Linked DNA regions of Homo sapiens. The gene in region 4 interacts genetically with the main gene of each other region. Each region holds a gene or a part of one and is shown on either strand. Other genes may lie near its edges.

Region 1 (3,500 bases), on a different chromosome or scaffold from region 4:
CCCCCCTCCCACCACCTCTCCACCACCCCACCCCCCCCCAAAAAAAAGATCCACAACTCCATTCTCATTCTTGACCAAGCCACTTTAATTTGTAACTTTAATGTGCAATATGAAGTCGATAATCCTTGAAATTCTCACCTGGCTCCTGCAGGAAAACAAAAGTAGAAAGCTTTAAGTACTTTTATATTCACTAATTCAAATCCATAATTCATTTATTCAATTATTCAAGTATTTATTGAGCACTGATCATGTGACAGCCTTGTAGACAAGAGAAGCAAAATCACCCTTCCTCTCTCAAGGGTTTACAGTCCAGTCATTAAAACAAATTTGTTGGCCAGGTACACTGGCTCACACCTGTAATCCCAACACTTTGGGAAGCCAAGAGGTGGATCACTTGAGTCCAAGAATTTGAGATCAGCCTGGGCAACATGGCAAAACCTCATCTCTACAAAATATACAAAAATTAGCCAAGAGTAGTAGTCCCAGCTACTGAGAAGGCTGAGGCGGGAGAATCACTTGAGCTCAGGAGGTTGGGGTTACAGTGAGCCATGATCACGCTGCACTCCAGTCTGGATGACAGAATGAGACCCTGTCTCAAATAACATAACATAACATAACATAACATAACATAACATAACATAACATAAAACATAACATAACATAACATAACATAACAAACTAAAATAAAATAAAATAAAATAAAATATAAAATAAAAGCATGTTAAATAAAAACATATTAACCCCTAGGGGTTTATGAGGAAAGGGAACCTTCTTAGTACCTCCCTTTTTAAAGAAGAAAAATTCTTGACTTCCTGACCTGGAAAATGAAAAAGCCATAACCCTTTACTGTTTAAAGAGTTAGTTTTCATATAGTTCTATATAGTAATACTCCCATATGCTGGATCTATTTAAATGTTGAGAGCAGGACACTGTAGTTTTGCAGCTACGTACTGTAAGCTCCATCTGTCCTGTTCACCACTGTAGGCCTGTGCTTGGCACAGAATTGGTCTTAATATATCTTTGATCAGTGGATGGATAAATGAAACCCTAAAATTATAACCTAACTTAGGAAAAAAATTTTTTTTTATTATACAATGGGCCAGGTGTGGTGGCACATGCCTGTAATCCCAGCACTTTGGGAGGCAGAGGCAGGAGAATCATTTGAGCCCAGGAGTTCAAGACCAGCCTGGGCAACATAGTGACACCCTGTCTCTACAAAATAAAAAATGTAAATAAAATAAAACATACAATGAAAAGGAAGAAGAGACCAAAGCAAATGTGAAAACTTAAGGCAGAAATCAGATACATGGCCAGGCGTGGTGGCTCACACCTGTAATCCTAGCACTTTGGGAGTCTGAGGTGGGCAGATCACTTGAGGTCAGAAGTTCGAGACCAGCCTGGCCAACGTGGCAAAACTCTGCCTCTACTAAAAATACAAAAATTAGCCAAGTGTGGTAGCATGTGCCTATAATCCCAGCTACTCAGGAGGCTGAGGAAGGAGAATCACTTGAACCTGGAAGGCAGAGGTTGCAGTGAGCCCAGATCACGCCACTGCACTCCAGTCTGGGCGACAGAGCAAGACTCTGTCTCAAAAAAAAAAAAAAAAGCAGATACAGGACATGGTTAACTCAACTTCATGCTGTTAGAATATGCAGTTTTTTCAAGTCCATCATAGGCACAAAGTAAAAACTAATGTTTATGAAAAAAGGTAAATATGACATAAAGAAATTTGGAGCACACCCACTTGTACAGAGTGAGGCTGAGTCTACACCTTCAGTCTTCATCATCAGGAGGGATACCTAATTCTTCATCTGTCCACTGGGAAGGATCAGGATACGGAAAGTGACCCTGGTGACAACCATTTAAAAGAAAGAAAAGTCAAGAATTTACATTCTGTGCAACTAATTAAATTGTTAAATAAATCTTGGAAAGAAAAAAAAAAAAACAATATGGCTCAGCCCCTGACCACAGGAACAAATTCTACTTTAATTATTCGATGGCCCACCTGTTCTTTAGTTTGTTCATTATATGGGCTCTGGTCTGAATTTTAAAAGCCTCCCCATTTGGAGGTACCAGCCTAAGCCAATGGTACGTGTCTGTGATAGAGGGAGGGTAGGGGGAAGTGGAGGCAATAGGTTTCAAAGGTTCCTGACATCCTGGCAAAGTCCTGGCAAAATATGTTTCCAACTCTCCTAACATTACTGCTGTGAAATGGAGAAGCCTCAGGTGGACTTCCTCATCTCCAATCCTGATCTAAGGGCTTATCTGGCTGCATCATCATCATCTCAGGCCTAACAGCTATACATACTGTACATACTCCGGACAGCTGACCTACAGTGAGGCAGGGGCACCTCAAATAGTAAATGTGTGGACAGTTCACAGACACCCAGGCAGCTCCTTACTGAAGGACAACGGCACAGAGAAGTTCTAAGAGAAATGGGATATGAAGCAACCTGATGCTTCTAAAACTTACATACTGCTTAAGATTTTTTTCCTATCCTGGAAACAAACCCAAATTTACTACAACTCAAAGTATCCTGGATAAACAAGCACAGATTTCAATGTCTTAAAGACGTAATTTCCCAAAGAACGGTCTGCAAATGTGGTAAAACCTCAGTTGAGGCTAATGATATGTTAGAAAATCACTAAAACTGGCCGGGCGCAGTGGCTCACGCCTGTAATCCCAGCACTTTGGGAGGCCAAGGCAGGTGGATCATGAGGTCAGGAGATCGAGACCATCCTGGCTAACACGGTGAAACCCCGTCTCTACTAAAAATATAAAAAATTAGCCGGGAGTGGTGGCGGGCACCTGCAGTCCCAGCTACTTGGGAGGCTGAGGCAAGAGAATGGCGTGAACCCAGGAGGCGGAGCTTGCAGTGAGCCAAGATCGCACCACTGCACTCCAGCCTGGGTGACAGAGTGAGACTCCATCTCAAAAATAAATAAATAAAATAGAAAATCACTAAAACTAACTTCCCTTCTCAAGACAAATTAACTCACATCCATCCCACCCAAACCTGGCTGCCCTGGGCCTCTGGACAGACCAGAAGACATTCATCATTTAAAGGAATTTAAGTGTGAAACCTAACCTACCAATGAACCGCTAGTTCAGAAGGTAAAAGAATTCATTTCTGGCCAGGCGCGGTGGCTCACGCCTGTGATCCCAGCACTCTGGGAGGCTGAGTCAGGTGGATCACTTGAGGTCAGGAGTTTGAGAGCAGCCTGACCAACATGGTGAAACCCCGTCTCTACTAACAACAAAAAAAATTAGCCGGCGTGGGGGTGCACACCTGTAGTCCCAGCTACTCAAGGGACTGAGGCACCAGAGTCACTTGAACCCGGGATGCAGAGGTTGCAGCGAGCCGAGATTGTGCCACTGCACTCCTGCCTGGTGACAGAGTGAAACTGTGTCTCAAAAAAAAAAAAAAAAAAAATGAGCTTTTAGTCTCCCTAAGATGGCAACCTAACAGAAACCATAAGAAACGGACCACCTAAATATA
Region 2 (3,500 bases), on a different chromosome or scaffold from region 4:
AGTGATGGTGCAGAACGCCATAGTGCAATGCATTGCTTACATGTTTGTGGTGGTGCCAATGTAAACAAACCAACTGCACTGCCAGCTGTATAAAAGTATAGCACATACAATTATGTATAGCACATAATACTTGATAATAATAATAAATAACGGCAGGCTACAGTGGCTCATGGCTGTAATTCCAGCACTTTGTGAGGCTTGAGCTCAGGAGTTCAAAACCAGCCAGAGTAACATGTAGTGAGACCCCGTCTCAACCAAAATAATTAAATAATAAAAATAATAATAAATGACTAGGCAACTGGTTTATGCATTTACTATACTATATACTTTTTATCATTATTTTAGAGCGTACTCCTACTTGTTAAAAAAAAGTCAATTGTAAAACAGCCTCAGGCAAGCCCCTCAGGAGGTATTCCAGAAGAAGACACTGTTATCATAGGAGATGACAGCTCCAGGCATGTTACTGTACCTGAAGACCTTCCAGTGGGACAAAATGTGGAGGTAGAAGACAGTAATATTGATCATCCTGACCCTGTGTGGGCCTAGACTGTGTTTGTGTCTTAGTTCTCACAAAAAAAGTTTAAAAAGTGCAAACAAAAATTTTAATACAAAAAAGCTTATAGAATAAGGATATAAAGAAAATATTTTTGTATAGCTGTACACGATATTTTAAGCTAAGTGTTATTACAAAAGAGTAAAAAAGTATTAAATTTTTTTTAAGTTTATTAAGTTTAAAAGTGACAGTAACCTAAGGTTAATTTATTATTAAAGAAAGAAAAATATTTTTTTAAAAATTTGGTGTAGCCTAAGCATACAGTGTTTGTTTATAAAGTATACAGCAGTGTACAGTAATGTACTAGGCCTTTACACTCACTGACTCACCCAGGGCAACTTCCAGTCCTATAAGCTCCATTTTTGGTTAAGTACCCTATACAGGTATATTACATTTTATCTTTTATAGCACATTTTTATTGTGCCTTTTCTATGTTTAAATACGTTTAGATACATAAATATTGACCATTGTGTTACAATTGCCTATAGTATTCACTACAGTAATATGCTGTATACGTTTGCAGCCTGGGAGCAATAGGCTATACCATAAAGTCTGGGTGTGTAGTAGGCTACACCATCTAGGTTTGCGTAAGTGACACTCTATGATGTTCACGTAACAATGAAATTGCCTAACAATGCATTTCTCAGAACATATCCCCATCAGTAAGCAATGCATGACTGTACTACAGAAATGCAAAGTAACAAAGATATCAGTGAAAAGTAGAAAGGGAGACAAGCCAGATCCTTGTCACAAAAACCAGAATGGGGCCAGGTGTGGTGGCTCATGCCTGGTAATCCCAGCACTTTGGGAGGCCAAGGCAGGCAGATCACTTGAGGCCAGGAGTTAGAGACCAGCCTGGCCAACATGGCGAAACCCCCTCTCCACTGAAAATACAAAAATTAGCCAGGCGTGGTCACGAGTGCCTGTAATCCCAGCTATTTGGGTGGCTGAGGCATAAGAATCGCTTGAACCTGGGGAGGCATGGAGGTTGCAATGAGACAAGATCACACCACTGCATTCTAGCCTGGTTGACAGAGTGAGACTCTGTCTCAAAAAAAAAAAAAGAACCAGATTGGGCAAGGTACAGTGGCTCATGCTTGTAAGCCCGGCACTTTGGGAAGCCAAGGTGAGAGGACTGCTTGAGTCCAGGAATTCAAGATCAGTTTGGACAACATAGTGAGACCCTGTCTCTACAAAAATTTAAAAAATTAGCTGGGCATGGTGGTGTGTGCCTATAGTCCAAGCTACTCATGAGGCTAAAGTGGGAGGATTGCTTGAGCCCATGTTACTATTATTCTACTAATAGTAACATGTTCTCAAGAGTGTTTCTTATTTTGCAGCCCAATCTACAATTTATTGCTTGACAAACAAAAACTTTCCATGCTTTCTGATGTGAATGTCTCTTAGCCCTAAAACAAAAAACCCTTAAGCATGAAGAGGAAGGAACAACTTCATTCACTTAATAGAAAAATATTTATTGTGCACCTACCAAGTTCAAAGCGTTATTCCAGGTGCTGAAGACCAAGCAGGGGAAAAAAACACACAAGGCCCTGTCCTCATCAAGCTTACATTTTAGTGATGGGAGATAGCCAGAAAACATCCAGTATGCTAGAAATGATAAATGCTGTTGAGAAAAGTAAATCAAAGGACAACAAGGAGTGCAGGAGCAGAGGTACAACTTTAAATGCAGTAGCCAAGGAAGGCCACACAAGATAACAAATAAGGAAAAAGACCTTAAGGAAAGAGAGTAAACTATGAAGTAAAAGCATTCCAGGCAACGGAAGCAGGAAATACAAAAGCTCTGAGTGGAGAGCTCACCTAATACAGCTGAAGAACAGCTGGAGTTGTGGTCAGTATGGTGGCAGTGGGGTGATTACTTGAAAACTTGTAGGAGTGATTACTTACCTAAACTAGAGAGATGAATATTGATGATGTGGCAGAGAAGATAATTGTCAAAACAAAGGAAACACAACAAAGAAAGAGGATGCAGGGGAGGTGGTCATGTGTACAGAGGAATGATGATAATGATAAACCATGATATCAGTCTGTGCTGGGTTAAGTAGGGAGTGAGAATGTGTGAGATACATGAGGGACTGTGAAAAAGTGGTTGGATCAATCGATGTAGGTTACAAAGAGGGAATGAATAATTCTTGGAGCTGGGAGACCAAGAGGGACTGGTAGTTAACTATTGGATTTCTTAAAATTTAGACTGGGAAGGAGGAGTAGCAATTACTGGTAATTAGAATATCTCTAGGGAATCATAGGGAATCCTCCCATGGAAGTGGGTAGCTGATGTAGAGAGAGATCAAGAAGTGAGACACCATGGTATTAGATCACCTACATGGATATTGAAGTAAAAGAATGAGGGTAAAACAGTATTGGAGAAAGTGTGACAGCAAGCTTAGAATATTCAAGGAAGTGCAGAGTGGTGGAGGAGGAGAAATAACCTGGCAGTTGGTAGATAACAGCAACAAAAAAAGATAGTAAATGATGCAGTTTAATGATACAAGCTACAAAGCTAGAAATTGTTAGGAAGGAAGAGAAATGATCTAGATTTGACAGTGAAGAGCTACAGAGATACCTTCCCCATCTTTAGACCCAGTGGTAAAAGAGTATGCGAGAGAAAACAGCAACTACTTAAAAGAACTGCTGGGGAAGTAACGTCTCCAGGGTACAGGCAGGTTTCTATTAGAGTCAAAAGGTGAAGGCAACATTCTGGAATAGGCTAAGATTGTAAGAGATTTTGCCAAGGGTAGTAAGTTCTACAAGTACAGTGGGAAAGTTTTGACAGTTGAGGAGGGTCAGATTCAGAGATATAAAGAGCCATTTGGGGATAAGAGTCTGGATGCTATGAAATGACCTGGCATTCTTAGTATAATTGCTAAAACACAGCAAATAAACCGAAGATATTTAACAAAATAACAATGGACAAAGGCACAACATAGTG
Region 3 (3,500 bases), on a different chromosome or scaffold from region 4:
ATCTATCAGATGAACTGATACTTAAAGAAAAACAATAATTTGCTTTCTTTTTCCATGACTATTCAATGGCCTCTTTTAGTATTTTTTTAAACATTAAAATGGCTTCAAACAATTTAACTAGACTTGATTATTGAATGAATACACAAAATCTGCTGGTTAACTTTAATTCTAAGGCAAGTCAGCTTCTAAGTCTTTTACTGTCCTACTTTTTTTCTTTCTTTTTTTTTTTGGAGACAGAGCCTTCTTGTTCTGTCGCCCAGGTTGGAGTGCAATGGCCTGATCTTGGCTCACTGCAACCTCACCTTCCCAGGTTCAAGTGATTCTCCTGCCTCAGCCTCCTGAGTAGCTGGGATTACAGGCATGCGCCACCACACTCAGCCAATTTTTATATTTTTAGTAGAGATGGGGTTTCACCATATTGGCCAGGCTGGTCTCAAACTCCTGACCTCAGGTGACCCACCCTCCTCAGCCTCCCAAAGCGCTGGGATTACAGGTGTGAGCCACCGTGCCCAGCCCTGGCCATACTTTCGTAACAAGGAAGAAGCAAGGCCGAATCCTTTCTTTTCATAAAGATGAATGCATGATAAACCAATAACTTTCATCTGTTAACTGAGCTGCATATAATTAGAGACCTATCTCAAGACATACTAGAAATTAAGAAACTACAAAATGTTATTCCCCTCTCTGCCTCTCCTATTTGTCAAAAGCAACACCATGCTCATTTATGTAGGCTTGGCACCACCTGACTCCTCCCACTCCTGAGCCTGCATTTCAAGTTCTGTAAATATAAACTCTGTACTAGCATCATTATATCTCTCTTTTCCACTCCTGCTGCTCCCCTCTTAGTTCATGCTTCCTCTCATTTGATCAGCTCATCTTTGGCAAGATTTTGCAATAATATACTAAGCTAGCTCCCTGCCCCCACATCCTAGCACTCCAGAGAGTTATTCATTCTCATCACATCAGTGATCTTTCTGAAATCAGAAATTCAACCACGTCACTTTTCAGCTTACCATTCAATGAATTTCTTCGAATGCTAAACATAGAATTGCCACACAACCAAGCAATTCCACTCCTAGGTATATATCCAAGAGAGATGAAAACATGTCCACATAAAAACTGGGGGGCTGAGCACCATGGCATGCACCTGTAATCCAAGCTACTCAGGAGGCTGAGGCAGGAGGATCACTTGAGCCCAGGAATTTGAGACCAGCCTGGGCAAAACAGACCCCATCTCAAAACAAAACAAAAATGTGTACACTTGATCACAGCAGCATTATTCATAAAATTTAAAAGCGTAAACAAACTAAATGTCCACCAACTGACAAATGGATAAACAAGATGTAGTACAAATACACCACACAACATTATTTGGTAACAAAAAAGAATGATGAACAGATAAATGCAACAGCATGGATGAATACTGAAAACACTACCTAAGTCAAAGAAGCCGATACAAAAGACTACATATTATATAACTCTTTATGTAAAATGTCCAGCATAGGAGACTCCACAGAGACAAAAAGTAAATTGGTGGTTGCCTGGGGCTAAGGTTGGGGTGAGAGTTTGGGAATAGGAGCAGCTGCATCCAGTGTTTCTTTTGGGGGAAGCTAAAAATATTCTAAAATTAGATTGTGATAATTGCACAATTTGGTGAAAAAACTAAAATTGTACACTTTAAATAGGAAAATGTATGCCATGAAATATATCTCAACAAAGTAGTTTAAAAAATCTCCACAACTTCCTACACCCTTCCACCTTTCCTGCCTCATCTTTTGTCCCTCCCCACATAAATCCTTTAACCCCAAAGGATAAAATCTCCTGCATTAACATGTGATAGCTACAAGAATGGGGTTCACCTTCCTACCCTTGCAGCTGTAGCCTGTGATCCTAAAGGAGGGATTCTGCCACCATGAGCTTCCATTGTAAAAATGGAGAAATATCTTACAAGGATATGAGATAATGATGTAAAATATAACATGCTCAGCACCGTGCCTGGCATGCGGTTAAGTGCTCAATAAGTGATGGTCATTCTCATCATTCCCAGAAGGAACCAAAGTATCCCTCTCCTTTGGGACACCTTCAAGGAGTGAAACACACTCCCCCACCTGGTCCACCTATTAAATATCTGCATATTTTCCAAAATGGGGGTCAAATGTCCCTCATCCTTTTCACATTCCTCAAGGCAGTAAGCCCCTCGAGGGTAGGGCCAGTGCCTATTCACCTGTGTGCCACCCCCTGCCAAGGCTTACCACAATACCTGGTACTAAATTGTTTCAAGAAGTACACATTAATGATTACTATTACATATATAAACATGAATATTGATTATCAGACCTACAATAGCCACGACCCACAATAAGACCCACCTACGACCCACAATAGCCAAGATCAGGGTAAATGTGTTAATCATTTTAACTCTTTTACCTCTACTCTTCAGCGACAGCCTCCAGTTTTTATTTATTTATTTGAGACCAAGTCTCACTCTGTTGCCCAGGCTGGAGTGCAGTGGCTGCATCTTAGCTCACTGCAACTTGCTACTCCCGGGTTCCAGCGATTCTCATGCCTCAGCTTCTCGAGTAGCTGGGACTACAGGTGCGTACCACCACACCTGGCTAATTTTTTGTATGTCTAGTAGAGACTGGGTTTCACCATTGTTGGCCAGGCTGGTCTCAAACTCCTGGCCTCAAGCGATCCACCCACCTCAGCCTCCCAAAGTGTTGGGACTATAGGCATGAGCCACCACACTCAGCCTCCAGTTAATAATATTTAGTAAGTACAGGCAACGTCCTAACTGCTCTAGAGATTATCTCATTTTATCCTCACTTGCAACTACCCTCTGGGGCAAGTACTATCATTTTATAGATAAGAAAACTGAGGCTGGGAGGTATTTACTGGTACATTTATTTTGAATGAAAAAAATGAGGAAAAGAAAAACAAAATGACTGTGTATGCCACTACAGTTCACTGAATTGAATACATTCTAGGGGCTCCTTGTAAATGTCCATGGCTTGCCTTTTTTCTTGCTACTAACGGAAATCACTGTTGTGCTTGACACACCTGGCTTGCCAGGACAGTCTTTTCCAGGAAACTCTCCAGCTTTGGGACCTCTCCCTCCACCATGACATCTCCTCCCTGCCTTCATCCCAGCCAGCCCTCTGATTCATTCTCATCAATGATTTTTCTGAAATCAAAAATTCAACCATGTCACTCTTCAGCTAACCATTCAATGAATTTCTTCAAATGCTAAAATACAGAGTTGCCATACAACCTGACTTCTATTAGAATAAACTAGAATTCTAAACCAATACATGGATTAGTAAGACTAGATATTCCTTACTCTGGTCTCACATTGGAGCAAAACAAAGAGAAAAGGGACACAGCCAATTTTAAAGCTATCCAAGTCACACTAGGGATTCCCAGGACCTCCGTATGAATCCAGGAAGTGCCAGAATCAGATTTTCCTCAAAGCGTCCTCTGGCAAATCCATAGTCTGAGGA
Region 4 (3,500 bases):
AATATACAAAAATTAGCCGGGCATGGTGGTGGGCGTCTGTAATCCCAGCTACTCAGGAGGCTGAAGCAGGAGAATTGCTTGAACCTGGGAGGCGGAGGTTGCAGTGAACCGAGATTGCGCCATTGTGCTCCAGCCTGGGCAACGAGCAAAACTTCGTCTCAGAACATACAAACATCTTAAGATCAATTCAGTCAGGGTTTTTTTTTTGTTGTTGTTTTTTGTTTTTTGTTTTTTTGTTTTTTTTTATGAGATGGAGTCTCGCTCTGTTGCCTGGGCTGGAGTGCAGTAGGGCAATCTCAGCTCACTGCAACCTCCGCCTCCCAGGTCCAAGCTATTCTCCTGCCTCAGCCTCCGGAGTAGCTGGGATTACAGGTGTCCTCCACCACGCCTGGCCAGTTTTTTTGTATTTTTAGTAGAGACGGGGTTTCACCATGTTGGTCAGGCTGGTCTCGAACTCCTGACCTCGTGATCCACCTGCCTTAGCCTCCCAAAGTGCTGGGATTACAGGCATGAGCCACCACGCCTGGCCTATTTAGTGAGTTTTAGCAATTGTATGTACCCATGTCACCAGCATCCAAAATAAGATACAGAGCATTTCTGTTCTCTCAGAAAGTTCCCTTTTACCGCTTTCTAGTCCACTCCCCTCTCCCACAATTGCCTTTATTTGGATTTCTTAGTAATGTAGTCAGATGGGATATAGTTCGTATACTGTCTTTTGTTTAACATAAATGTTTTTGAGATTTATTATTTATGTTGTATATGTTAATAGTACATTCTTTTTATTTATTTTTTTAAATTTGAAACAGGGTCTTGCTCTGTTACCCAGGCTGGAGTGTGCAATGGCAGGATCACAGCTTCCTGTAGCCTCATCCTTCTGGGCTCAAGTAATCCTCCTACCTCAGGTTCCCAAGGAGTTGGGACTACAGTCATGCACCACCATGCCTGGCTAATTTTTAAATTTTTTTGTAAAGATGGGATCTTCCTATGTTGCCCAGGCTGATAATTTTTACATTTTTGTAGGGACGGGGTCTCCCTTTGTTGCCCAGGCTGGTATCAAACTCCTGGGCTCAAGCGATCCTCCTGCCTTGGCCTCCCAAAGTGCTGTGATTACAGGTGTGATCCACCCATGCCTGGCCTCATTCTTCTTCTTCTTGTTTTTTTTTGAGACGGAGTCTCGCTCTGTCGCCCAGGCTGGAGTGCAGTGGCGGGATCTCGGCTCACTGCAAGCTCCGCCTCCCGGGTTCACGCCATTCTCCTGCCTCAGCCTCCCAAGTAGCTGGGACTACAGGCGCCCGCCACTACGCCCGGCTAATTTTTTGTATTTTTTAGTAGAGACGGGGTTTCACCGTTTTAGCCGGGATGGTCTCGATCTCCTGACCTCATGATCCGCCCGCCTCGGCCTCCCAAAGTGCTGGGATTACAGGCGTGAGCCACCGCGCCCGGCCTTTTCTTCTTATTTTTTAACTGCTGAATAGTATTTCTCAGTTGACACATATATATTTTTTTTTATTAAAAATTTTTTTAGGCTGGGCGCAGTGGATCATGCCTGTAATCCCAGGAACTTTGGGAGGCCGAGGCGGGCGGATCACGAGGTCAGGAGATCGAGACCATCCTGGCTAACATGGTGAAACCCCGTCTCTACTGAAAATACAAAAAATTAGCCGGGCGTGGTGGCGGGTGCCTATAGTCCCAGCTACTCGGGAGGCTGAGGCAGGAGAATGGCGTGAACCCGGGAGGCGGAGCTTGCAGTGAGCAGAGATCGCGCCACTGCGCTCCAGCCTGGGCAACAGTGAGACTCCGTCTCAAAAAAAAAAAAAAAAATTTTTTTTAGAGGCTGGGCGTGATGGCTCACGCCTGTAATCCCAGCACTTTGGGAGGCCGAGGCGGGTGGATCATGAGGTCAGGAGACCGAGACCATCCTGGCCAACATGGTGAAACCCCATCTCTACTAAAAATACAAAAAATTACCTGGGTGTGGTGGCATGCACGTGTAGTCCCAGCTACTCGGGAGGCTGAGGCAGGAGAATCACTTGAACCCAGGAGGCGGAGGTTGGAGTGAGCCAAGATCGAACCACTGTACTCCAGCCTGGTTGACAGAGCGAGACTCTGTCTCAAAAAAAACAAAATGTGTAGAGTCAGGATCCTTGCTTTGTTGCCCAGGCTGGAGTGCAGTGGCACAATAGTGGCTCACTGCAGCTTTGACCTCCTTGGCTCAAGCCATCCTCCTGCACCTGTAGCTTGGACTACAGGTGCGCACCAAAACACCCGGCCAATTTTTGCATTTTGTGTAGAGACACGGTTTCGCCATGTTGCTCAGGCTCATCTTGAACTCTTGAGCTCAATCTACCCACCTTGGCCTCCCAGAGTGTTGGGATTATAGGCGTGAGCCATGGAGCTCACCCCTAAACCACTGCTACATAATATTCCATATGTACTTTTTTTTTTTTTTTTGAGATGAAGTCTTGCTCTGTCGCCCAGGCTGGAGAGCAGTGGCACGATCTTGGCTCACTGCAACCTCCTCCTGTCCCCGCCGCTGGGTTCAAGTGATTCTCCTGCCTCAGCCTCCCAAGTAGCTGGGATTACAGGCATGTACCACCACACCTGGCCCATTTTTTTATTTTTAGTAGAGACAGGGTTTCATCATGTTGGCCAGGCTGGTCTCAAACTCCTGACCTCAAGTGATCTGCCCGCCTCGGCCTCCCAAAGTGCTGGGATCACAGGCGTGAGCCACTGTGCCTGGCCCAGCCCATATGTACTTTAATTTAGGTTGTTTGTAATTTTTTACTGTTATAATCAATGTTTCACTGAATATCCTTATACCTACCTGTCTGCATATCTGGAAGTATTTCTCTAGGGTGGATACCTCACAATGGAATATCTGATTTGAAGAATATACACATACTAAATTATAGTAGATCCTGCAAATTTCCCCCTGAAAATGATTGGATTAGGTTATACCCCATCCGTAATGTCTGACAGTATTTCCCCATACCTTTGCCAACGCTGGATATAATTTTTTTTTTTTTTTTTGAGATGGAGTCTCGCTGTGTCGCCCAGGCTGGAGTGCAGTGGTGCAATCTTGGCTCACTGCAAGCTGCACCTCCTGGATTCACGCCATTCTCCTGCCTCAGCCTCCCAAGTAGCTGGGACTACAGGTGCCCACGACCACGCCTGGCTAATTTTTGTATTTTTAGTAGAGATGCGTTTCATCTTGTTAGCCAGGATGGTCTCGATCTCCTGACCTCGTGATCCGCCCACCTCGGCCTCCCAAAGTGCTGAGATTATAGGCGTGAGCCACCGCGCCTGGCCAGAATCTTTTAAAACTTTTTCCAGAGGCAAATAATTATATCATATTATAATGTGCATTTTCTTTTCTTTCTTTTTTTTTTGAGATGGAGTCTCCCTCTGTCGCCCAGGCTGGAGTGTAGTGGCATAATCTTGGCTCACTGCAACCTCTGCCTCCCGGGTTCAAGCAATTCTCCTGCCTCAGCCTCCCGAGT

What was found. A genetic interaction does not mean that the proteins touch.
Region 1: changes in MED24 (region 4) and NDUFB2 together harm fitness more than expected from each alone (negative genetic interaction), as found in Homo sapiens cells (one large-scale study listed by BioGRID).
Region 2: changes in MED24 (region 4) and MRPL42 together harm fitness more than expected from each alone (negative genetic interaction), as found in Homo sapiens cells (one large-scale study listed by BioGRID).
Region 3: changes in MED24 (region 4) and MICOS10-NBL1 together harm fitness more than expected from each alone (negative genetic interaction), as found in Homo sapiens cells (one large-scale study listed by BioGRID).

The regions. Positions count from the first base shown.
Region 1 is NC_000007.14:140,703,208-140,706,707, reverse strand, and holds the end of NDUFB2 (NADH dehydrogenase [ubiquinone] 1 beta subcomplex subunit 2, mitochondrial precursor), read right to left. Parts: intron 1,849-3,500; coding exon 1,774-1,848; 3' UTR 1,745-1,773; intron 146-1,744; 3' UTR 65-145; downstream 1-64. UniProt on the Homo sapiens protein: Accessory subunit of the mitochondrial membrane respiratory chain NADH dehydrogenase (Complex I), that is believed not to be involved in catalysis. Complex I functions in the transfer of electrons from NADH to the respiratory chain.
Region 2 is NC_000012.12:93,481,014-93,484,513, reverse strand, and holds part of MRPL42 (large ribosomal subunit protein mL42 precursor), read right to left. Parts: intron 1-3,500.
Region 3 is NC_000001.11:19,603,479-19,606,978, reverse strand, and holds part of MICOS10-NBL1 (neuroblastoma suppressor of tumorigenicity 1 isoform a precursor), read right to left. Parts: intron 1-3,500. UniProt on the Homo sapiens protein: Possible candidate as a tumor suppressor gene of neuroblastoma. May play an important role in preventing cells from entering the final stage (G1/S) of the transformation process.
Region 4 is NC_000017.11:40,044,409-40,047,908, reverse strand, and holds part of MED24 (mediator of RNA polymerase II transcription subunit 24), read left to right. Parts: intron 1-3,500. UniProt on the Homo sapiens protein: Component of the Mediator complex, a coactivator involved in the regulated transcription of nearly all RNA polymerase II-dependent genes.